Homo sapiens: one gene and its partner. The protein of the gene in region 1 binds, or shares a complex with, the protein of each later gene. Links are inferred from orthologs where the notes say so. Each region holds a gene or a part of one and is shown in the gene's direction. Other genes may lie near its edges. The genes, in order: LATS1 and WWC1.

What was found.
Region 2: the proteins of LATS1 (region 1) and WWC1 are in contact, whole or in part, in a crystal structure (PDB 6J68), measured with the Mus musculus proteins. The link is inferred for Homo sapiens from one-to-one orthologs. Residues at the interface, in NP_034820.1 of Mus musculus: Ala546, Glu547, Ala548, Pro549, Ser550, Tyr551, Gly553, Pro554, Pro555, Pro556, Pro557, Tyr558, Leu562, Leu563; in NP_740749.1 of Mus musculus: Asp17, Tyr23, Ile25, Asp26, His27, Arg30, Thr31, Thr32, Ser33, Trp34, Asp64, Val67, Tyr70, Ile72, Asp73, His74, Lys77, Thr78, Thr79, Gln80, Ile81.

What each region holds. Positions count from the first base shown.
Region 1 is NC_000006.12:149,712,745-149,725,261, reverse strand, and holds the start of LATS1 (serine/threonine-protein kinase LATS1), read left to right. Parts: upstream 1-7,160; 5' UTR 7,161-7,413; exon of another isoform or gene 7,414-7,658; intron 7,659-8,836; exon of another isoform or gene 8,837-9,055; intron 9,056-12,517. UniProt on the Homo sapiens protein: Negative regulator of YAP1 in the Hippo signaling pathway that plays a pivotal role in organ size control and tumor suppression by restricting proliferation and promoting apoptosis.
Region 2 is NC_000005.10:168,284,332-168,296,707, forward strand, and holds the start of WWC1 (protein KIBRA), read left to right. Parts: upstream 1-7,313; 5' UTR 7,314-7,821; coding exon 7,822-7,940; intron 7,941-8,374; exon of another isoform or gene 8,375-11,953; intron 11,954-12,376. UniProt on the Homo sapiens protein: Regulator of the Hippo signaling pathway, also known as the Salvador-Warts-Hippo (SWH) pathway.

The sequences.
Region 1 (12,517 bases):
GGTCTCGAACTCCTGACCACAGGTAATCAGCCCGCCTCGGCCTCCCAAAGTGCTGGGATTACAGGCGTGAGCCACTTAGTATTTGTAACCATAAGAGAAAGTATATTTTAACAGCATTACATTTCATGCCAATTGACAAGTTTTGCCAATTTTAATAAGAAACTAAGCTTTATGTAATGTAACACCGTAATTTATGAATTTGTTCATTGTCACTGCCTTTATTCATGAAACTGTCAAATAGAGTGTCTTTCAAGGGTTGCAGGATCTTAGAGATAGAAAGTACCTTGGTGATCATCTCCAGCCTAAATTTCATCATCCCTTCTATGGTATTCCCAACAAATTATCATCCAACCTATACTTAAAAACATATGGTGGCCAGGCATGGTGGCTCACGCCTGTAATGCTAGCACTTTGGGAGGCCGAGGTGGGTGAAGCACCTGAGGTCAAGAGTTCGAGATCAGCCTGGCCAACATGGCGAAACCCCGTCTCCACTAAAAATGCAAAAAAAAAATTAACCGGGCGTGGTGGCAGGCATCTATAATCCCAGCTACTTGGGAGGCTGAGGCAGGAGAATTGCTCAAACCCGGGAGGCAGAGGTTGCAGTGACCCAAGATCGTGCCACTTCACTCCAGCCTGGGCAAAAGAGCAAAACGCCATCTCAAAAAATATACATATATAAGGAGATAAAGTTTCCCATTTTCCAATACAGTTTCACATTTGAACAGCCCTAATTGATACAACTTTATGGCAGGGTTTTAGTGTGTGAGTGGGATCCAAAACACTCAATCCTGTAAAAGGGTACAGTCCTATTGTATGTTAACACACTGATGATGTGAGCCTGTGAGATGAGCCAATCACCAGTTGTTATGTTCGAATCTGCTTTGTGTTGGGACGCTTTAATGTCAGGGTTTCACTAAATAAATGAATTTTCATATACTGAACTGAAATTTGCTTCTATCTGTCTTATCTCGGGAGCCACACACACAAAATTCCTCTCATCACATATTCAAATATTCAAAATTGATTATTATAGTCTCTCCAGTGAAGGTTTCCTTCTCTTTCTTTCCATTTTTGGCTAAATCCTTCTTATCCTTCAAGACTCCTTCTAGGTGTCATTTTCTCCAGACAGCTTTTATTGGCCTCCAGCAATCCGGACTAAATTGCACTCTGCTTCAAAAGCCCATTGTGCAGAACTTAAATTGTGCGCAAAGCAGTGTGTTAAGGAGCCTGTCTCCCCCTACTGGGCCACAAGATCAAGAACAGCGCCCATGTCTTCGTGTAACAGTGTTTAACAGTATCTGAACCATAGTAAGCAATGAGTCACTGTTAATTGACCTTGTTTTCACAATCTTGTTTTCCCTTTAAAAATTACTGCTCTTTGTCAAAGGCCTTTTTTTTTTTTTTTGAGACTTTAAGTCTCGCTCTGTCGCCCAGGCAGGAGTGCAATGGCACGATCTCAGCTCACTGCAACCTCTGCCTCCCAGGTTCAAGCAATTCTCCTGTTTCAGCCTCCCGAGTAGCAGGGATTACAGGTGTGCGCCCAGCTAATTTTTTGTATTTTTAGTAGAGACAGGGTTTCACCATGTTGGCCAGGCTGGTCTTGAACTCCTGACCTCAAGTGATCCACCCTCCTCCACCTCCGAAAGTGCTGGGATTATAGGCATGAGCCACCGTGCTCGGCCAGAGGCCTTCTTTTAAGTGTGACTTCCAAGATAAACACTTTTTCATATATTGTCTACCTTGGTGATTATGACAGAAATCTTGCCATCCTGTTAATAGGAATGATATTCCTTTGTAATGCTGTGTCAGCTTTCTGAAGTGTTCACATGTGATACTCCTAAGCCACACTTCCTATATTCGGAAGTTAATACAAATGGTTTTTAATCCTTAATATGGGCCTTTCTTGTTCTAAGAAAAATTTCATTTCAATATAGGAAAGGACTAACTATTTTCTTTGAATCTTTTGTAGAAGCTATTATTTTCTCCATAATTAGCCCAGCGTGCTCTCTCCACTTTCATCCCATTGATTAAGAAAGATGTTTGAGACAGGATTTCACTCTGTCACCCAGGCTGGAGTGCAGTGGTGTGATCCCCAGCTCACTACAGCCTCGATATCCTGGGCCCAAGTGATCCTTCCACCTCGGTCTCCCAAGTATCTGGGACTGCAGGCATGTACCACCAAGCCTGACTAATTTTTGCAATTTTTATTGAGATGGTGTTTCACTATATTGCCCAGGCTGGTCTTGAACTCCTGGGCTCAAGCAATCTACTTGCCTTGGCCTCCCGAAGTGCTAGGATTACAGGCAAGAGCCACCATGCCCAGCCAGAAAGATGTTAAATGAAATGAAGTTTTTAGGCCCACTGCTGGAGTCTTCTCAATTATCAATGAAACATGAATCTCTGGTATTTGGCTACAGTTACTGAAATATTTATAAAACAACCTAATTTATTGACATTTCATTCCATTTATCTTATTTCCAAGGTTATTGTGAGAAAATGTGCTGTAGTTATACTATCAAAAATTTGGCATAATTGAAAAATTCCTGGTCCTTTGTGAATAGTACTTTTATTTAATTGTATTGTGGAAACATCCTTTTAATAATCCACTCTAGACTCTTGTCCAAGAAGCATATTAAATTCAACAGTATATAGTTTATATTGAACCTTTAGTTAAGCTTATGGTGTCAATAGTATCTAGCTCAGACTAATAGAAGGTCTGGCCAGGTGCAGTGGCTCACGCCTGTAATCCCAGCACTTTGGGAGGCCAAGGGGGGTGGATCACCTGAGATCAGGTGTTCAAGACCAACATGGTGAAACCCCGTCTCTACTAAAAACACAAAAATTAGCCTGGCCTGGTGGCAGGCACCTGTAGTCCCAGCTACTCAGGAGGCTGAGGCAGGAGAATTGCTTGAACCCAGGAGGCAGAGGTTGCAGTGAGCGGAGATCGTGCCACTGCACTCCAGCCTGGCAACACAGCAAGACTCCATCTCAAAAAAAGAAAAAATGGGGCTGGGCACGGTGGCTCACACCTGTAATTCCAGCACTTTGGGAGGCGGAGGCAGGCGGATCACCTGGGGTGGGAAGTTCGAGACCAGCCTGACCAACATGGTGAAACCCCATCTCTACTAAAAAAAAAAAAAAAGAAAATTAGCCAGGCATATTGGCACATGCCTGTAATCCCAGCTACTTGGGAGGCTGAGCCAGGAGGATTGCTTGAGCCTGGGAGGCAGAGGTGCAGTGAGTGAGCCGAGATTGCACCATTGCATTCTAGCCTGGGTGACACAGCATGACTCAAAACTAAATTACATTAATTTAAATTTAATTAAAGTATTTTTTAAAAAATTTGTAGCTGCAAAAAATCAGAAGAGTTTTTACCCCTCTATAGGGGTAGAATAAACTAAAAAATCTTAGCCAGAGAAGTCTTAGAATCCATGATACACCAGTAGCAAGGCATACACCTAGCACCCAGATTTGGTTTCTTATACCATATTCCAATAAAAGGAACCAGGGATCCTTGGAGGAATGGTGATCCCTGAACCGGGGCAAGAAATATACAAGATATCTTGGAGAACTGGGCGCGGCAGCTCAAGCTTGTAATCCCGCACTTTGGGAGGCCAAGGCGGGCGGATCGCTTGAGCTCAGGAGTTCAAGGCCAGCCTGGGTGACATAGGGAGACCTGGTCTCGACAAAAAATACAAAAATTAGGCGTGCCAGGCGCGGTGGCTCACGCCTGTAATGCCAGCACTTTGGGAGGCCGAGATGGGCAGATCATCTGAGGTCGGGAGTTCAAGACCAGCTTGACCAACATGGAGAAACCCCTTCTCTACTAAAAATACAAAATTAGCCAGGCATGGTGGCGCATGCCTGTAATCCCAGCTTCTCAGGGAGGCTGAGGCAGAAGAATTGCTTGAACCCAGCAGGCGGAGGTTGCGGTGAGCAGAGATGGCGCCACTGTACTCCAGCCTGGGCAACAAGAGAAACTTGGTCTCAAAAAAAAAAAAAGTTGGACATGGTGGCCTGCGCCTGTAATCCCAAGTTACTTGGATGCTGAGGCATCACCTGAGTCCCGGGGGTTGAGGCTGCAGTGAGCCATAATCATGTCACTGCACTTCAACCAGGGTGACACAGTGAGACCCCATCTAAAAAAAAAAAAAAAAAAAAAAAAAAAGATTTTGGAACATAATGTACTGCCAGAAAAGAAGAAAGTTCTTTTTTTTTTTTTTTTTTTTTTTTTTAGGTGAGGTCTTGCTTTGTCACCCAGGCTGGAGTGCAGTGGCTAGATCTCGGCTCACTGCAGCCTCAGCCTCCTGAGCTCAGGCGATCCTTCTGCCTCAGCCTCCTGAGTAGCTGGGACTACAGTTGTGTACCACCACACCTGGCTGATTTATAGAGATGAGGTCTTGCTATGTTACCCAGGCTGGTCTTGAACTCTTGGGCCCAAGTGATCCTCCTGCCTCAGCCTCCAGAAGTACTGGGATTAAAAAGTGCTGGGATTAAAGGGGTGAGCCACCAAACTGGGCAGAAAGTTCTTTAAAACACACACACACACACACACACACACACACACACACGCCAACTGAAAGAGCTCCAGTGGCCAAAACTGAAACAACTTGAGCAACAAAATAAATACCCAAAGCATAAAATAAATATCCATGAGGCCATACTGACATAACGAGTTTTTGTTTTGTTTATGTTTTTGCTTTTTGTTTTTTTTGTAAGACAGTCTTGCTCTGTCACCCAGACTAGAGTGCAGTAGCACAGTCTCGGCTCACTGCAACCTCCACCTCCTGAGTTCAAGCGATTCTCCTGCCTCAGCCTCCCAAGTAGCTGGGACTATAGGCATGCGCCCACCACGCCCAGCCAATTTTTTTTATTTTTAGTAGAGACGAGGTTTCACCATGTTGGCCAGACTGGTCTGGAACTCCTGACCTCAAGTGATCCGCCTGCCTCGGCCTCCCAAAGTGCTAGGATTATAGGTGTGAGCCACCACACCCGGCCAATAAATGTTTGAATAAATAAAGGAGAAGGGATAAATCTGCAGAATGTCAAATAATTTATTTGAATTCTCCACTTTATTTATTTTATTTATTTATTTTTTGGGGACAGAGTCTGGCTGGATTCTCCACTTTCAAGAAGATGGAGCACAACTCCCCATTCCTTAAGAGTGGGTGGCACATAGTCTGGTGTCTTCCCCTAAGATCGTATGAATTTCTGGAAGGGTTTATGTTCTCAGGGCCACACTGGTCTCCAGACTTCTTCCATGTACACTGCCCCCTAATTCCTTTCTAAGGTCACACAAGCATGAAATCGGATTCTACATCTATTGCTAAAAACAAGCCCCATTTCCATGAAGCACTGAAGAATTGAGTAGGCTGAAACTGGACCAAGATCTTCCATCACAATAATATAAAAACCTGCAAATGTGATGGCAGGTATCACCATTCCCACACATCCAGCACCCACAGTAAGTATTTCCCCAACCATCATCACTCTCCGCACCTACAGTCCCCAATGCTTTGCATCTCGTCAGTTCTCTTCCTGATCATTCCACCTCTGCTTTCCCTGCTCTTTTATCTCTCGCCCTACTTCACAGGAGTAAGCCTCCTAGTCCTACACAGAGCAATTTACTCAGCTCCCTGAATTATCTAGGAATTTCCCCAAAGACTAGAGTTTGTGGAGATACTTTCCTTTAGGTTTAGAGAGCATTGAGGAGCTTAAGTACCATGGGTTGATGACAGACGTGACAGGATTCTGGGGGCAGTCTGCCCTTCCAGATGCATAATCCTTTTGGATAGGGCAAGCAGACCTGTGGACATATTAGATTCCTATAATTCATATAATTTTAGGGCTGAAAAGGTCTTTATGGGGCACCCTTACGTTGAAGAAAGTAAGCCCTGGGGCTCTTTAGTGACCCACCTTGGGTCACATTGCCTTCTACAAACTCTGTGCTTGTAGAAAATAGACTTTCAACCAAATGTTCTTGGAACATAATCTTTTTTTTTTTTTTTTTTTTTTTGAGACGGAGTCTCGCTCTGTCGTCCAGGCTGGAGTGCGGTGGCGCGATCTCGGCTCAATGCAAGCTCCGCCTCCCGGGTTCCTGCCATTCTCCTGCCTCAGCCTCCCGAGTAGCTAGGACTACAGGCGCCCGCCACCACGCCGGGCAAATTTTTCTGGATTTTTTAGCAGAGACGGGGTTTCACCGTGTTAGGCAGGATGTTCTCGATCTCCTGACCTCGTGATCCGCCCGCCTCGGCCTCCCAAAGTGCTGGGATTACAGGCGTGAGACACCGCGCCCGTCCGGAACATAATCTTTTAACGGGTTTTCACATTTGGATTTCTAGATACAGTAAGTAGCCAGTTATTACTTTAACGTCAGAAAAAGATGTCTTTAATTTTTTTGTACTCTGTAGTAGAAAAATTACGAAAGAAGGTACTTGAAAACACTAACTGTATATTTCCTAGAGGAAAAACTGGCAAAGGCGATCTTCACAAAGGGTGGACCGTACCTTATACATCAAACCCAACGATCCCATCCCACACTTTACATTCAGCTTAACCAGAAGTAAAACCTCTTGTCACACCGTCACCGGTATTCCAATTATGGCAATAACGATCTCCTTCTACGGATGCGGTTGACAGATAAGATCTCTAAACCGCTGCTAATCAATCGGTCCTGGCTCAAGCATTTCTTATCTGCCGGATTCAGAAAATACAGATGCTGGAAGCTCACCGGCTTGTTCGGGGAAAGAACGCTAAGCAAGAATAAAATTTTATTTCAAAGCGCCAAAAATCTGGAATTCTGAGGTCCACAGGGAGGTTTCCCAGAGCAACTCAGTTGTTCCCTTCTGAGAACGTAGCTCCGTGAAATGCACATCCCTACTCGGTCCAGAGAAATAGATCAATGGGGAAAAGGATTGAATCAACCAAGTAGGCTGGGCGGGAGACAGCCTTAACCCACGGGCGCGGGCGAGTCGTATGGGCAGGGGCAGGCGGGAGCGACGTGGGGCGACGCTCACGAACGATCAGAGCTGCGGGCGACGCAACGAAGCCCGGAGGCCGCAGGCTGCGCGCTCCCTCGCAGCAGCCGGGCGGGCAAAAGCCCCCAGTCCTCGGCCCCCGCGCAAGCGACGCCGGGAAATGCCCACATCCGGGAAACCTGCAGCGGAGTGCGGCGGCGGCGACACTGAGTGGAAGGCAAAATGGCGGCGGCGGCGGCGGTGGCCTGGTGTTAAGGGGAGAGCCAGGTCCTCACGACCCCTGGGACGGGCCGCGCTGGCCCGCGGCAGCCCCCCCGTTCGTCTCCCCGCTCTGCCCCACCAGGGATACTTGGGGTTGCTGGGACGGACTCTGGCCGCCTCAGCGTCCGCCCTCAGGCCCGTGGCCGCTGTCCAGGAGCTCTGCTCTCCCCTCCAGGTAGGTCCGGGGCTGGCGTAGCGGGTGCGCTCCTCCAGTGCTCGAGTTGGCGGGGCGGTGGCCGCCGGGGCCCACGCCCATCCCCGCTGGCGAGGGTCCAGAGGTTTGGACTGGCGGGCAGAGCCGGCCCGCTCCGGGCCTGACTTGGCTGGTTGCATTGACCCGAGCTGAGCCCTGCCCTGGGGAAGCGAGGGTTGGCCGCGCCCGGTGCTGCAGGAAGAGCCCCAGGCTTTTCGGCCTCGGAGGTGCAGGTTTGGCTGGGTAGAGCCTGTCTTTCTGGCGGCGTGTCTCCCACCCCACCCCCAACACGCGAGTCGGCGGTGTCCAGGAGGGAAGGAACGGGAAAGGTGGTTCTGAAGGAAAATTGCAGTAAAAGAGCTACAGTTCTTTGGATCCCAGAGGGCCTTGATCCTGGGTATACCTTAGAGAAATCCTGGGAGTCTCTTACGTCTAGTTCAGTGTGATTTTAGGTTACTGTTCATAGTTGGAAGAGGTGGGAGAGATGGAGAGGTCTTTATGGAGTAGGAGTGTGTATATAAATACAGCAAATGAAGGAACGACAATTAAGGGAACAGTGTTTTTTATAACCTGAAATAGCTTGTAGCTCAATGAATGCCTCAGATGACTTGATTTATCCCCATTCTGACTTCTCTGTCAATTTCTAAGGGAACAAAATTTAATGTTTGTCAACTCATATGTTAATACGGCTTTTAAAACATGTATCATCCTCCAGAAGTTATTCATAAATCTAGTGAACAATAAGTATAATCTCATGCACAGAAGTAATATTGTATAACTCCAGTTTTGGAAATGGATTTGAATGTTAGCGATCATGAAACTTGTTTGAACTTTATGAATTATTTATTGAAGGTTAATAAATTTATCAGTTTATCAGTTTATCAGAAGTTTCTGATAAACTTAATTTTTTATCAAATTTCCTCCATGAGGAAGAAAAGGTAGGACATTATAATTGGAGTGAATGTTCTGTGCTACGAAAACAAAGCTTATTATCTCTGACGGTAAAATGGGGTAGTTGATTCCTTAAGGCAGTGGAGGAATTTGATTGAACAGTAAAAGAAGTAGCATTGTGTTAGTCCAATTGGCTGCTACTGCAAGAAACTAGATCATGGTCCATGCTTGGAATGGCACATTCTATGCCTAAATATTGATGGAATATGCCTTGCTGCTCACCAAAAAATACTTCTACTACATTTTTAATGTATAATATCTGGCTTTCATTGTGTAGGTCGTTTTTATTTTTGTTTTGTTTTTATTGCAAGTCCTTGTTCTATATAAATAGTGTTGGAACTGTTCTAACCCTGGTTATTTGGTTATTTTAGATGTTTTATTTACATCAATGGGAGATTGTTATACATCACAAAAGTTATTTAGTCATTGAATAACATTTTCGCTAAGTAGGAACAGCAATCATTTTTCAGCATGAAGATACAGCGTTGCTTTCACTTTTGATCTGACAATTATTAGAAAGTGAACTGAAGAAAATGTCAGTATGCAGTTTCCTTTAAAGATGGGAACTCGCTATGTTGCCTGCGCTGGATTCCAACTCCTGGACTCGAGCAATCCTCCCACCACAGCCTCTCAAGTAGCTGGGACTACAGGTGCACTACTGCACCCAGCCAGGGTACCTTTCTGATAAACTTAATTCAACCCAAATTAACACTTTGAAATCTTATGTAATGGTATCATTTTTTTTTTCCTAAGTTGGACAAACTAATCAATGATACTTGTTTGTTGATGTTTGTATTTTTGATGAGGGTCTGAACTTTAAAAAAAAAAAAATGGCGATCTGTCATACCCAGGCAGTTTGATTCCAGAGCTCTTACTTTAACCATGAGATTAAAGTCATTGAAAGTTATGGGGTAGGTAGGTGACATGATCAGAATTGTTTATTAAGACGAATCTGGCCCCATCGTAGTGTGGGTTAAAAAGGTAAGCAGTTTTGCTTTGAAGAATTATTTTAAAAATTCTTTTTGCCTAGTAATAATTTGAATTTTCACATGTCATAGCAGCAAAGATTGTTGAGATTTAGTAATGCCAGTATTAACCATACCTTGTTGTGGGGATTATAAAATTAGTATAACTTTCTAGAAGGCATTCTGACAATAAGTATCAGAATTTTAAATATGTATTCTCTTTGATCCAGCAATTCCACTTCTGGGAATTTATTTTAAGAAAAATGCTCAGCAATGTGTGCACAAGAATTTTTATTGCAGCAATTTTTTTATTAACTAATTTCGTTATGTGCAAGGAATATGCTATATGTATATTATACATATGTTCATTTTATTAAACTATGAGGCATAATAAAATGAACATCCATGAACTTACCACCTGAACTCAGAACAAGAATATTACCAGTATAATTGAAGTTACCAGTTTGCAGTATTATTTTACATTAGCAAAAAAATGAGGAACAACCTAAATGTCCATCAGTCAGGGATTTATAAGTAATAGTACATCTAGCCGGGCGCAGTGGCTCACGCCTGTAACCAGCACTTTGGGAGGCCAAGGAGGGCGGATTACCTGAGGTCTGGAGTTCGAGACCAGCCTGGCCAACATGGTGAAACCCCATCTCTACTAAAAATACAAAAATTAGCTCGGTGTGGTAGCGCGGGTCTGTAGTCCCAGCTACTTGTAAGGCTGAGGCAGGAGAATCACTTGAACCCGAGAGACGGAGGTTGCAGTGAGCTGAGATGGCACCACGGCACTCCAGCCTGCGACAGTGAGACTCTGTCTCAAAAATAAATAAAGAAATAAAGAAATAATAAATAAATAAATAAAAAATAGTACATCTACATGATGAAATTCAATATCGGTATTTAAAGGAATAAGGTTGAACTATCATACTTTATCAATTCTGAAATACCACTAAATCTAAGATAAGCCATCTATTTAGTAGCAATTTTTTAGCAGGAAGAAAGTAAACATAAAGCTTTTATTAATAATAGCATACATTTATTCATTCAATTGTATACCATTTTCGTCTGTCACAATAAAGTTTGAGTCTCAGCCTTATTCACATTCAGAATCTAGGATCCTTCTGAATTACTTCGGTTAGTTAATGCAACATCATGATAACAGGCTGCTTTTCATAATGCTAGTTAATTATCTTAACCTATATTGTCTTTATGATTGTGTGTATAATTTTAAGGTATATTGAAGAATACTGGGGTTTTGCTTGCCTTTCATTTTTGCTTACTTAGTTTTTTTTTCTTCTTCTTAATTGAATTACCTATTGCTGGAAATTAAACAGCTTCTTCTGAAGATAACTCCAAAAGTTTTGGCAGACTTTTGAGTCTGTCTTACCTTTGAAAATTCTGTGATCTTGCTTGAATTTAATAATTACTTATGCCTTTAATTGCATTGTCTATTGAATGACAGTTTGAGTGCACAATACTATGTCACAATGGAATCTTTCAGAACATTTTGTGGACCAGGCATGGTATCATCCCAGTATTTTGGGAGGCTGAGGCAGGAGGAACACTTGAATTCAGGAGTTTGAGACCAGCCTGGGCAACCTAGCAAGATCTCCATCTGTATTTACAAAAATAATAATAGCTGGGCGTGGTAGCTCATGCTTGTAATCCCAGCACTTTGGGAGGCTGAGGTGTGTGGATCACATGAGGTCAGGAGTTCAAGACCAACCTGGCCAACGTGGCAAACCCCTGTCTCTACTAAAAATACAAAAATTAGCCAGGTGTGGTGGTGGGTACCTGTAGTCCCAGCTACTCCGGAGGCTGAGGCATGAGAATCACTTGAACTTGGAAAGCAGAGGTTGCAGTGAGCCAGAATACGACACTGCACTCCAGCCTGAGTGAGACAGTCTCACAAAAAAAAAAAAGTAATAATGATAAAAGAAAAAAAGAGGCCGTGCGCAGTGGTTCATGCCTATATAATCCCAGCACTTCGGGAGGCCGAGGCAGGTGGATCACCTGAGGTTAGGAGTTCAAGACCACCCTGGCCAACATGGTGAAACCCCATCTCTACTAAAAATACAAAAATTAGCCACACATGGTGGCACATGCCTGTAATTCCAGCTACTTGGGAGGCTGAGGCAGGAGAATTGCTTGAACCCGGGAGGCAGAGGTTGCAGTCAGCTGAGATCACGCCATTGCACTCCAACCTGGGCAACAAGAGAGAAACTCCTTCTCAAAAAAACAAAAACAAAACAGAAAAAAAGAAAAAACATTTTGAGCATCATATATGGTGCTGCCAATGAAAATATTACAATTGTCCGGGTATGGTGGCTCACACCTGTAATCGCAGCACTTTGAGAGGCCAAGGCGGGTGGATCACCCGAGGTCAGGCATTCGAGACCAGCCTAGGCAACATGGAGAAACCCCGTCTCTACTAAAAATACAAAAAATTAGCCGGGTGTGGTGGTGGGCTCCTGTAATCCCAGCTACTTGGGAGGCTGAGGCAGAAGAATTGCTTGAACCCGGGAGGCAGAGGTTGCAGTGAGCCGAGATGGCACCATTGCACTCCAGCCTGGGCAACAGAGGGAGACTCTGTCTCAAAAAAAAAAAAAGAAAATAATACAATTGAGGTAACAGAGATTTCGACTTTTATGTATGGTTAAGTTAGGCATGTGCAATGACTGCTACTCTAGAACTTCTCTGCTTTGGAGGGGAGATTGGACCTTGATTTATTTGGAAGGAACTCTCATCCATTGTTTTCATTATCATACTCGGCCACCTGTGAAGTGTGTGTTGGGTGAGTATTCTCTCTTTGGAAGGTACACATCTTTCTCAGCTAGCTTATTGCTCATAGAAGTTGGGGGCCCAAGGGTTGATCTTAAGATATACTCAATTTATTTATTTATTTATTTTTTCTGGGACAGAGTTTTGCTCTGATGCCCGGGCTGGAGTGTAGTGGCACAATCACAGCTCACTGCAGCCTCGACCTCCTGGGCTCAATTGATCCACCCACCTCAGTCTCTCCAGTAGCTGGGACTGCAGGTGCACACCAACATAATTGGCTGATTTTTTCTATTTTTTGTAGAGTTAGGGTCTCACTTTGTTTCCCAGGCTAGTCTCAAACACCTGGGCTCAAGAGATCCGCCCACCTCAGCCTCCAAAAGTTT
Region 2 (12,376 bases), on another chromosome or scaffold:
AGATATCTGTAGGGAATATGAAATGGGGAGGTAGAGAGTGGAGGGGAAAGTGGGGTGAAGAAGCCAGCTTGAAGAAAAAAGCTGTTGGCTCAGAGTAAGCAATGACCTTCTGCTTCCAGGAAAATGGAGTAGGCACATTTTCCCCTATTCCTCCCACTGGTTCAACTAGAAACCTTGGATGTTATACATAAAACAAATATGAGAAGACTCAGAACAGTGCAAAGAAGAAGGCAGATGGCTAGGGACCTCGCACTCCGAGGAATGACATGGTGGTGAGTTCCCTGGGTTTTCTTTTTGCCTCACATATCCCAGGCTGGAGTGCTGGAGAAGCAGACAACCTAAAAAGGCCAATGTCCAGCTTTCAATTAAAAATCACTCATCATACCAAGAACCAGAGATATCTCAAACCAAATTAAAATAGCAATAAATGCCAACACTGAGATGACAGAGATGTTAGAATTGTCTGACAAAGATTTTAAGGCGGCCATAATCAAATGCTTTAATGAGCAATTATGAATACACTTGAAACAAATGAAAAATCAGAAAACCTCAACAAAGAAATAGAAAGTCTCAGCAAAGAAATGCATGACATAAAGGAGAACCAAATAGACATATTAGAAGTGAAAAATACAACAAATGAAATAAACAGCTCCATGGATGGGCTCAAGAGCAGAATAGAGGGGACAGAGGGAAGAGAATCCATGAACTGGAAGACAGAACAATCAAAATTACCCAGTCTAAACGATGGAGAGAAAACAGACTGAAAACAAATGAACAGAGCCCCGGGATCCCATGGGACTATAACGAAGATGAGAGCCCCAGAAGAGAGGACAAAAGGGTGCAATTGTTAAAGGATTCAAGGAAATAATGGCCAAACACATCCCAGCTTTGAAAGGAAGCATGAAACTACAGATTAAAGAAGCTGAGCCCCACCACCCACCCAACTATGAGATAAACCCAAAGAAATCCATGCCAAGACACATATTTAAATATCTGAAAACTAAAGACAAAGTAGCAAAATATCCAACCTTTACTAGGCTTTATTGGACCTTTGAGGCAACTGCAGCTGAGTAGCCAGGGCTGGGGAGCAGGGACTCTGTTCACCTGGATCAGGGTGGAGATGGTGGTACAGGAAGCCATGGGTTTGGGGGCAGAGAATCTTGTGGCATTTTAGGGCTACCACCTTCTAGCTTGGGTGCCCCCAACAAGAGCAGCCTCCTGTGGTTTTCAGCAGAATGGGAACAGCGCCCTGGGTGTGTTGAACATACTGTCTTCAGGGCTTTTGCTCCTGCTATTCTCTTTCCCTGCAATGCATGTTCTTTGGTTCTTCGCATTGTGGGCTGCTTGAGGTTTCTGCTTAAGTGTTACCTCCTGAGAATGGCCTTCTCCTCTGGTCCAGTCTAAAGTAGATTCTCAACCAATCCACACCCTACCAAATTCTTCACAGCACGCTCCTTCCTTCATATTATTAACAACAACTTGCAATTACTTTTTCATGTGTTGACTTGTTTATTACATGTTACTTTACTAAACTGTAAGCTCCACGGGACCAGAAATCACCCTTATGTCTCAATACTTGTCTGGCAGACAATAGGCAGACAAAAAAGTTCTTGTGGAATAAATGAATAACAGCTGAACAGGGAAGGAGACCTATATTTAAAAGAGCTTCTGCATTTCAGAAGCTGAGCAAAGCACTTCACTTGTATCATTTCATATAGTTGTCACAAGTCAATAGTGAGGCAGCATTGTTGCTCTCATTTTTCTTGTTGGTGATCTCATTTTACAGGTGAGGAAACTGAGGCTCAGAGAGATGCAGTCTCATGCCGACAGTCACACACTGACCAAGATGCAGAGCCAAGTTTCAGATCTGGATTGCTTTTTCTGCCCATGTATTTTCTACTACTCTGCCCAGCCACCCTGTTGAGACAGGTTGTTGTATAAACCCAACCCTATACCCTTCTTGCCAGGTGATTTGTAAAATTCACTCCATTTGCTTATCTTTGCAGTGGTGAAGTTCTGAGAATGAGGTGTGAGACCATGTACAGTGGACAGGTAAAGTGCATTTCATTCCATGCATCTCCAAGCAGTTGGGCTAGAGTTTAATTTAAGCGCCTGGGTACCATGGCGATGCAAGCTCTATAAATACCGAGAGAGGCTTCTTTCAGCCAGTCTGCTGGTGACTGCACTTGTACCCCCACCCCCGTCTCCCACCAGGGCTCCGCCTCTGCTGTTGAGTAGAGGAACAGAGGAAAGCACTGCTTTGCAAGAACTCCCGCCCTCTGCTCATGGGCTTGCTCTCTCCTCTCCACACCCCCACCCTTGAAACTGAGATTTCATCTCCACCTCCTCCTTTGGTGCATAATTCATTTCCTCTTCAGTGAAAGACACAACAGCTCCCAGTCCCCAGAGAATCCCTTGATGAGAGAGTCAGAAATAGGATGGACTCAACCTCTCCTGGCAGCCTCAGCCTCTCACATAGGAGAAATCAGCTCAGTTAAGAGTTTGAGACCAGCCTGGCCAACATGGCGAAACCTCGACTCTACTAAAAATAACAAAAATTAGCTAGGCATGGTGGCGGGCACCTGTAATCCCAGCTACTCAGGAGGCTGAGGCAGGAGAATTGCTTGAACCAAGGAGGCAGAGGTTGCAGTGAGCCGAGATTGCGCCACTGCACTCTAGCCTGGGCAACAGAGTGACACTCTGTCTCAAAAAAAAAATAATAAATAAATAAATAAATAAATAAATAAATAAATAAATAAAAAGAACCAGCAAGGAAACAAGTGGGGAGGAAAGACAGGCAACAAAGGGAGAAAAGTACCCCTCTTCCCACAGAGACCGCTGAGCCTGTGAAATCCCCTACACCAATCCCCTTGGGGGGTCTTGTGGACAGCACTGGGCAGGCAATGGGGGATCAGGGCACTATCTCCTCCTCTTAGAATTGAGAACCCCACCTCAACTCTGCCCTCTCATTGTCAGCTCAGCTGTGACCAGTTTTAGCATGCCCTCATCAACCTCCATGGCCTCCTCCATCCACTCCAAATAGACGCACAACCCAAACATAAGTAGGAGTTTAAGGAGAGTCTCCTGGCCACCCCACCTCCTTTCCCAACCAGACCATGGCCCTGAAATCTCTCCTTCACAGGCACTCTAAAGCCCACACTGGGAGTCCAGAAGCAAAAACTCACTAGAAGCAGCTAAGTTGATATCTACATGACTACAGAAAAGTCACTTTGCCTCTCTGAATCTCAGTTTGCTCATCTATGAAATGGAACCAGCAGGAACTAGGGCAGTAAATCATTATTCACACAAACTCCATTTCTCTGTTTGTAAAATGAGTAGGCTGTGCAAGACTTGTTTCAGTTGATTTCCCAGCACTGAATTAAGCACGGAGGACCGAGAGGTAAATAAAAAACCATCTCTTCTGCCTCGGCTCTCGTGTTACCAAGGTTTCTTCCACCCTCATTTTCTCTGGCTTAGGACGTGTTTTCCCATCATTGGAAAAAAAGAGTCCACAGTACATTTATGAACCTCAAATAATGCATGACTCAAGAAAGGGGACATTATTGGCTCCATCATAGAACATAACTGTGCATTCCCCAGGATGTGTGGGAGGGACGGCATGAGGTAGGGAGGTAGAGTCATGGAGCAGGAAGCAAAATCTCAGCAGAGGTTCTCAAAGCCTCAGTTTCCCCTGAAGAATGCAGATGCGAACAGGAAACTGGACTTGCTAACATATCTGTTCCTTTGTTTTATATTTAATTTCTCCTCTTTACCATCTTCATGGAATATGTGACTCTGGCTCTCTGAAACACTCTAAAACACGTGTGGATAACGGCCTTTCTTCCCTGCAGTTGCAGTGGAGAAAAGGGTTCAAGTGCGCATCGTTTTTAAAAACAAGACAGCCTGTCTCAGGCTCAGGTGATTCCTCTGGGCCACCGGGATGTGGCCTTTGTCATTAGAAAGGCTTGGCCTGTGGTCACTTCTGCACTGCCCAACACTGCCCAAGCCTGTCTCCTTCAACTCCACACGCGGGCAGCCAGACGCAGCCCCAGGAGGGTGGCCAGGAGAGGGCTGGGCTTCTTGTCTTCAGTTCGGATTCCTGCAGTTCAGTCACCTGTAGAGTAACGTCCAATTCAGCCTATCATGTGGCTGAGCCGGTTTTACCTTTAATCTCTTTCACGTTTGCCCTCAGCCTCGCAGAATGTCCGGGATGATTCACGCGCCATCACATGGGGCAGGCAGTCATCTGTTTTATTACCTCACCCTGCTTGCCGCTTCTGCGAGATAACCTGGGATTCTTTCGTTGGGGGTGGATGGGAGGTAAAAAGAGCGAACAGACCTAGGCCTTAATTCAGGAGTCAATTCCTGCTCTGGTCTCTCTTTCTTGCTTCCCAGGCCAGGTCAAAAGGTCCAAAGAAGCAAGCCATTTGGAAAATGCCAGGGTTTGGGTGGCTGGACTAAAACGAAAGTGGGACTTGGCAGTCTAAAAGGTGTTTTCTCTTCACAATCAATGCCAACCAGTAAAAAGGCTTGGTTGAAAAATAAGGCCAAAAAAAAAAAAATCAGCAATTAGGAGGACTGTTGCAAGCAAGCAGGCATAATTTTCAGAAGGGGAAAGGACGTGGATTTGTGTTTTGAACAGAAAATACTTCAAATGGTCCACATTTCATAGAGGTGTGTCTGCTGCCAGGCACGGTGCTCCGAATGCACCGCACCACAGCCCCTGAGATGAAGGCGTGCTGCTGAGTGCCAAGCCCTCACATTTCTCCTCCTGCTTTGCCCTAACCACAAGCCCAAAGGAGTCCATATTGTTATGTGATTTTTTTTCAAATCAAAGACTGAGACTTCAGTGAAGCAAGCTGCCCAAGGTCACACAGCTAGAAAACCGGGTGGGCTTGGGACCCAAACAGCCTGATTCTAGAGCTCTTGCTTCTCAACCAAAAAACTATGAAGCAAACATCAACAGAGATGAACATTTGTCAGTATCAGTCATGTTCCACATCCCAACCATGGGGAAGTTCTGAGGCTGCAGAGTGATTTAAAAAAGAAAGAAAGTCTCCAATCTGGGTGACAGAGCGAGACTCCGTCTCAAAAATAAAAAGAAAGAAAGAAAGAAAGTCAGCCAGGCAAGGTGGCTCATGTCTGTAAGCCCAGCACTTTGGGAGGCTGAGGTGGGCGGATCACCTGAGGTCAGGAGTTCGAGACCAGCCTGGCCAATATGGTGAAACTCCAGCTCTACTGAAAAATACAAAAATTAGCTGGGCGTGGTGGCGCAGGCCTGTAATCCCAGCTACTCTGGAAGCTGAGGCAGGAGAATTGCTTGAATCTGGGAGGCAGAGGTTGTAGTGAGCCGAGATCATGCCACTGCACTCCAGCCTGGGGGATGGGGGGAGACTCCATCTCAAAAAAAGAAAAAAAGAAAGTATAGGTTAATAACTGAGAACACTGCACTAGAGTCAGACCTAGTCTGTCTTATGAGCTCTGTATCCCAGGCCAACAACAAAGCATCTTGGAGCCTCATCTGTAAAATGGGTATAATAAATAGACTTTCCTATGCCAGAGGGTTGTTATGAAGATTGAGATCATGTATTCAAAGAACCTAGCACCAGGTTGGCTTTGCTTTGGGGCTACTGCTCTAATCAATAGTGGGTTTTTATGTAGTAAAGGCTTGACCCAAACAGAGGAAGTGTAGAGGGCTGTGGGAATTCCCCCATAAAGGAATGGGGAATTCCAACTTTTGGGTGTTGAGGGCCAGTCTGAGGCTGGTGTCCCTGGACTCTGGTGCCTGGTATTTATGGAATGAAGGAGGGCCAAGCACTGAGCCCCGAGGCCTGGCCTCAGGGAAGGAATTAACTATGAAGAAGGCATTTGGAGGCGAGGCTCACTCTGGTGGGTCTTTTCTGTCAAGAGGAGATGAGACCACAAACATGATTCCCTCTCTGGCTCAGCAACACCCTGGTCCATACAGCACAGGGTGCTGGTTCTTCTGGAAGACCGTGGGGCTCAGGCAAGAGAAGACACCCAACTGGGCTTCATTCGACCAGTCCAGCTTCCTGCCATATGCCGAGGGCAAAAAAGGGTTAAATTCCCACTCAGTACACAGATGTAAGAGGAGATGGGGAAGTGAACAGCCAGTTGATCATTCACTCAATCATGCTAGCTTGCTTTTTGTATTTAATGCTACATTTTAAATTTATTTATTTATTTATTTGAGACAGAGTCTCGCTTTGTTGCCCAGGCTGGAGTGCAGTGGTGCGATCTTGGCTCACTGCAACCTCCACCTCCCAGGTTGAAGTGATTCTCATGCCTCAGCCTCCCGAGTAGCTGGGACTACGGGCGTGCACCACCACGCCCAGCTAATTTATTATTATTATTTTTTAGTAGAGATGGGGTTCACTATGTTGGCCAGGCTGGTCTGAAATCCTGACCTCAGGTAATCTGTCTGCCTCACCCTCCCAAAGTGCTGGGATTACAGGCGTGAGCCACCGCACCCACTAATTCTACATTTTTAATTTCTCAAGAAACATTGTGTCTCTGATTGTTTTATTCTCTTGAACATTTTTCAAGATGGAATTTTGCTTTGCTTACTTTCTTCTTTTTCATAGCCCCACTTCTCCCAAATCCATAACACACCTACCTCAAAGTATCACAGGAAAGAAAGCCTGTGAAGCTGCTAGCCACAGCCTGTCACAAGTAAGTCCTCAATTTAGCTAACAATAACAATGGCATTACTATTACTTTTACAAAGTGTTTTCCCTGACACCCTCTGGAAGTCCTCCCAGGAAAGCGGATCCACAGCGCTCCTAATTTTAGGGACCCTGAGGGGAGCCAGCTACATTTCCAAATGGTGGGGAAGGGTGGAGGGTGGGCGAAACGTCGTAGGGAGAGTTGAATAGAAGGAGACAGATGGTGCCTGTGTTGGGGGAAGGGACCAGAGATCCTGGAAAACTTATGTTTCCCAATTCGCAAGAATGTTTCCATTTAACCACTTCTTGCCTGACTCCTGATTCTACACCACAGAAAAGCAGGGAGTTTTTAAGATTTGGGGCCACCTGTGCCGAGAGCCTGGCTACTCCGGGTGGAGAGAGACAGGAGCGTTTTAAGTACAGGCAGAGCGGTTTTTGGCCCAGCCCCCTAGGTCTGGGACGCAGGTGAGGGGCGGTCTCTCCTTCCCCTGGCAGGGGCAGCGTAAGGGTGGCCGGCGGCTGGGACTGTCCCACGAGGGGGCGCGTCTCGGGCCCTAGGACCCGCCCTCGAGGCGCTGCGCGCGGGGAGGGGACCCGGGAACCCAGGCGCCCGGCGCTCCGCCTCCCGTTTCCGGGGCAGCGCGGTTACCTGCACCGCCCGAGCCGCACCTGGCGGAGGCAGAAGTCACAAACCCGGCGAGCTCAGAGCGGTGGAGCGGAGAGGAGGGACGGCACCCGGCTGCAGGGAGGAGGGAGGCGGCAGCGGCAGCGGCGGCGTGGAGGGCGCAGCGCGCCGCGCGGCGGAGGAGGGCAGACGGCGGCGGCGGCGGCGCTCGGCTCGCTCTGCCCGGCCGGCTGGGCGCGCACCCGGGCTCGCACCGCGCCGCTGCGGACGCACATGGCAGCGTGAGAGGCCGGCGGCGGGAGGAGCGGGCGGCGCCGGGTCGGGGCTGCAGGGCCGCATGGACAGCGGCGCCACCCCGGCCGGCCCCTACTAGGGCCCCCCATCTGCGGGCGCCACCCCCCGGATCATGGTGCCTCGGCGGCCGCCCGGGCTAAGAGCGGCCGGCTGGAGCCGCTGAGCCCCCGCTGCGGCCGGGAGCTGCATGGGGGAGCGCCGGCAGCGCTTGGGAAGATGCCCCGGCCGGAGCTGCCCCTGCCGGAGGGCTGGGAGGAGGCGCGCGACTTCGACGGCAAGGTCTACTACATAGACCACACGAACCGCACCACCAGCTGGATCGACCCGCGGGACAGGTAGGACCCTGGAACCCTCCTCCGTGCCCCCACACCCCCGCCTGGGCCCCCACCTGCCCCTGGAGCCGCCGGCCGGGACTGGGAGGGGGCAGGGGAGCTCTGCGTGCCTCTTGAGCTCTCTTCAGTTCGCCACCCCCTGCTCCCCCCAACCTTCTGGAGCGCTGCTCCCGCCTCAGTGGGCCACCGAGAGGAGGCGCCTGCCGGGGAGCTGGCCCAGGCTGCCCCACCGCCATCCCCAGTTGGAGGACTTAGGCCCCAGCCGGCACCTGCCCGGAGTTTTGACCTTAAGCTCTAGCCCCGCCCGCCCCCTTTAGGAAGAGAGGTCGGGCGGGGGCGGGGGTTGGGGGAGCGACCTAGCCGGGTGAAGCCGGGTCTTCCCGGGGAGGCTTCCACCCAGCGTGGGGGGTGGGCGGATGGGGATGGGGAAGTGTCCGGTTAGAGGGGGTGGTCAAGACCCCAGGATTCCGTGGGAGACCACTGGAGAGAGGGCACTCGGCGCAGAGGAAGGCAACCTGAGGTGTGCTTTTTGACAGGTGCCTTGGAAGCTGCTGAGAACAGCACAGGGGCAGCCAGGGGGCCCTGGAACCCGAGGGTGGGGAGGAAGTGAAGAAGCGGGGGAGGGCAGATGAGGGAGACTGGTTATCCAGGAATCTGGCAGCAACTTGGAAGCTGTTAGGATGGAGATGGAGGTGAGAGGCCTCCCGGAAAGCCTTGCCCCTCGCCTCTTTCTCCTCTCTTTCTTCCCTGATCGGGGAAGGGGGCGGCGAGGCTCCTCAGCCCTGCACCAGCGGGACCTGACCTTGGTGGGTACCAGGCCGCTGTAGGTTGAGATAATGTGCAGAGGCAGATGGAGCCTGAGATAGCTCGGTGTGGCTCTTACCTCTCCAGACTTTCTCCTGGTTGTTTGGCATTTCTTTGCTCACATGCTGCACACACACACATACATTCACCCTCTCCATGTATGTCCTAGAGTCCCCGGACCACGATGTTGTTGACACGGTCTGTGGGCAGAGTGTCTTGGGGAATGCGGACTTTAAACCTTGTCTGTGACCTTGGGGGTCAGGTCCCTGTAAAGCAACCAAGGTGAATTTCTTGGACTCTTCATCTTGTGTGGTGGGGGTGGAGGTGTCCCAGAAGTGTATGTAGCAAGATGTGGGTCAAAAAAAGAATATAAGCGGAAAGAAAATGAGAGTTGAGATTCTCGGTAGTTTCTGGGAGCACTTACTTTCATTCATTCATTCATTCGTTCATTCAGCGCTTCCTGGATGCCTCCTCTACACTCAGCACCATGCTGAATGTCTCATGAATGTAATCTGGAAGGTAAATATTTAGTGCTAGAGAGCATCTCTTAGGCAAGCTGCTTCAACCTCTGAGCCTCAGTTTCCCTGTTTGTCAGATGGGGGAGCCCACCATTTCCCTGAATTTAAAAAGTTTGCTTGGAAGGGAATATTGGGATGCTTAAAACTTGGAAGGGACGTACATCAGCGCCCAACTCCCATTTGAAACATAAGAGAAAATTTGAAGCCCAGAGGTGTGATTTGCTCAAGTATTTTGATTTTTCTGCCATTCTGCGTACCAGTTCTTCACCAGCTCTGAAGTTCTAACCTGCAAACTTGTCACCCTGACACACTGCTTCCCCACCCTTACTCGGGTCAGTTGCCAGCTCTGCTACTGTGTTGGTGAACTTGGCAGCACCTTTTCTCTTGTCCTTTTCTCAGAACAGACACAAGTTCAAACATATGTGACCTGCCCCAATTTAGGTCCCTGTAGTTTACGGAGGCCTGTGTGCTGTTAGCAGGTGGACGTCCTGTTGGAGGGAAAGGACCGCCCCTGCCAACACTGATAATCATGCATCTGGGGACTTCTAATACAGCAATAGGAGGCCCCTCTCAACAGTAATTCTTTACCCTTGGAAAAGGGTAAGTAAGTAGCTTCTATGAAGAACTGATTGGCTGGAGCACAATCTCCCAAATTTTAGTGTTACATGGACCACCTCCATGATTTTTTTTTGCTATATCCACCTGTGCTATTGCTTACTTACTCCTTGACTTTAGATCAACTCACTTTAAAAATATGTGTACCATTTTCACAAATGGGAAACTAGTTATATCTATTGTCATACAGGGGAAACAAAAAAGATAGGCAAACAAAAAAAACAAAAAACCAGGGTTAGTATATTTTAGCTAGGTACTGTGGCCAGCCTAAGGCCACAGCACCTCACCTGCCCAGCCTTTGTTTTTAAGCAGATTGGCAAGCCATGGAGAGGCGGCAGAAACATAGTGGCACTTAGGTGAGCAGCTCACCTTCTTCATCTTGTGTCATTGGTTTTTTTGTTTGCTTTTGGTTTTTTTGTTTATTTGTTTTTGTTTTTTGGAGACAGAGTCTCGCTCTGTCGCCCAGGCTGGAGTCCAGTGGTGCGATCTTGGCTCACTGCAAGTCTGCCTCCTGGGTTCAAGCGATTCTCCTGCCTCAACCTCCCGAGTAGCTGGGACTACAGGTGCACGCCACCACATCCAGCCAATTTTTTGTATTTTAGTAGAGATGGGGTTTCACTGTGTTGCCCAGGCTAGTCTTGAACTCCTGAGCTCAGGCAATCCGCCCACCTCAGCCTCCCAAAGTGCTAGGATTACAGGCGTGAGCCACCACGCTTGGCCTTGGGTCACTGGTTTATAAACTTCATCTCTGTACCTCCTTGTCATCCCACCTGGACTGGGGTGGTATTGGGCCCCTGAACTTGGGGTCCTGAGGGGGTCTCATGTCAACTCTGGGGGTCACTATTGTGGTCCAGCTTTGTATGTTTTGGAAAAGTGCTAATTGGAGGATAGCCACTTGTGGTTTTCTGGAATTTCCCTCCGGCATACCCCATTTTTGCCTTTTAGTTCTGTCTGTGTGGCCTTGGGCAAATCACTTGACCTCTCTGAGGTTTGAGTGCTTGAGAAGTGGGTTGGTTAGATGGTCTTCAAGGGCCTGCCAGCTCTTAAATATTATTTCAAACCCTTCTGCCGCTCTTACCTCTCCAGACTCCATGAGAGGAGAAGGGGGAACAGGGATGGGCTATGAGAAAAAGGAAGAAGAAATTTAACAAAGCTGAAAAGAGCCAAACTTATTCCGGGGGGTGGTGGGTTGGGGAGAAAAAATTCTGCCAAGGTAGTTATATCCCTGCAATTAATTAATGCTGTGAGACAAAAAATTGCACTAAAAATTTCTACTCCGTGTGTGTGTGTGTGTGTGTGTGTGTGTGTGTGTGTTTATTTGCCTTGGATTTTTCCTTACCTGAATCATGGAGATGCCCACCCATTCCCCTGAATTTAAAAGAAGTAAGTCAAATGGTCCTTCAGTCAGAAAAGTGATTTCTTAGCCACCAAGGACAAAATAGCGTCTCTGGTTACCAACCCTAAAGAATGTCTTGGCACATTCCTCCCTCTGGGGCTGAGCTGTTTTGTGTGCTGGCCGGCCAGGAGCTGCTGGGGGTAGGGAATCCAGTTTTCAGCTTCCCCTTTCACCAGGGGGTTGGAAGAGCAGCCAAGCAGCCAGCCTTGCCAACTCTCTCCCCTTCTCACCCAGGGGAAGACTGGGAGGCCGAAATTCCTGAGGATGGTTGTCCCAACAACCGGAGAGGGTCCAGTGGGCAGCTTGGGTCCTGCCCACTGGGCCAAAGGCTCCAGCAGCACCACAGGCTTTTCCTGAGTCAAGGCCAGCCTGGGAAGGTGACAGGCCCTTCGGGAATCAGGTGCTGTGGATCAGGTCTGAACAGCACCTTGGAGCCGTGCTCCTTTTGCGGAGTAACTCTGGGTGCTTTTGTGAGCTCTAGCGAAGGGGCCAGCGTCCTGTGTATTTCACTTCGTGGTATGCAAAACAAATGCACCGATTGTTCTCGGAGGAAGAATAGATCTTTGGGGCTGGCCCTCCCAGAGAAGGTTCCTGCAGCCTGATTCCTTCTTGTTGTGCGATTTGTATTCAGACCTTCTCATAGGAACCACCTGGGAATTCTGGGCAGTTTCTGGGTCTGTATGGTAAGTACCGGAGGCACACATGGCTGGAGAGGCCATGCTGAGAGGATCCAGCAACTTCTCCCATGACTTGAGGATCTTTTGCTAACCCTGTTATTTCAGAAATAATTGATATGGTAGGAAGTCAGGTCTACAGCAGTCAAAAAGTCTAAACCTCTGTCAGGTCACAGACCCTTATGAGACTGATAAAGGTTCAGAACTCTTCCTAGAGAAAAGGTTTTTGCACATAATTTCAGGGACCTCCTGGACCCCAGGTTCATAACCCCTGCCATAGATAAGCTTGGAAATTGCTTGTCACCATGGAAAGGCCTCCTGTTTAGCTAGGTAGCAAATAATGATTGGGTATTTACTATATTCAGGCAGTCTGCTGAGAGCTTTACATAGGTTATCTCTTTAAATCCTCCTAACAACCCTGGGACTAGGTAC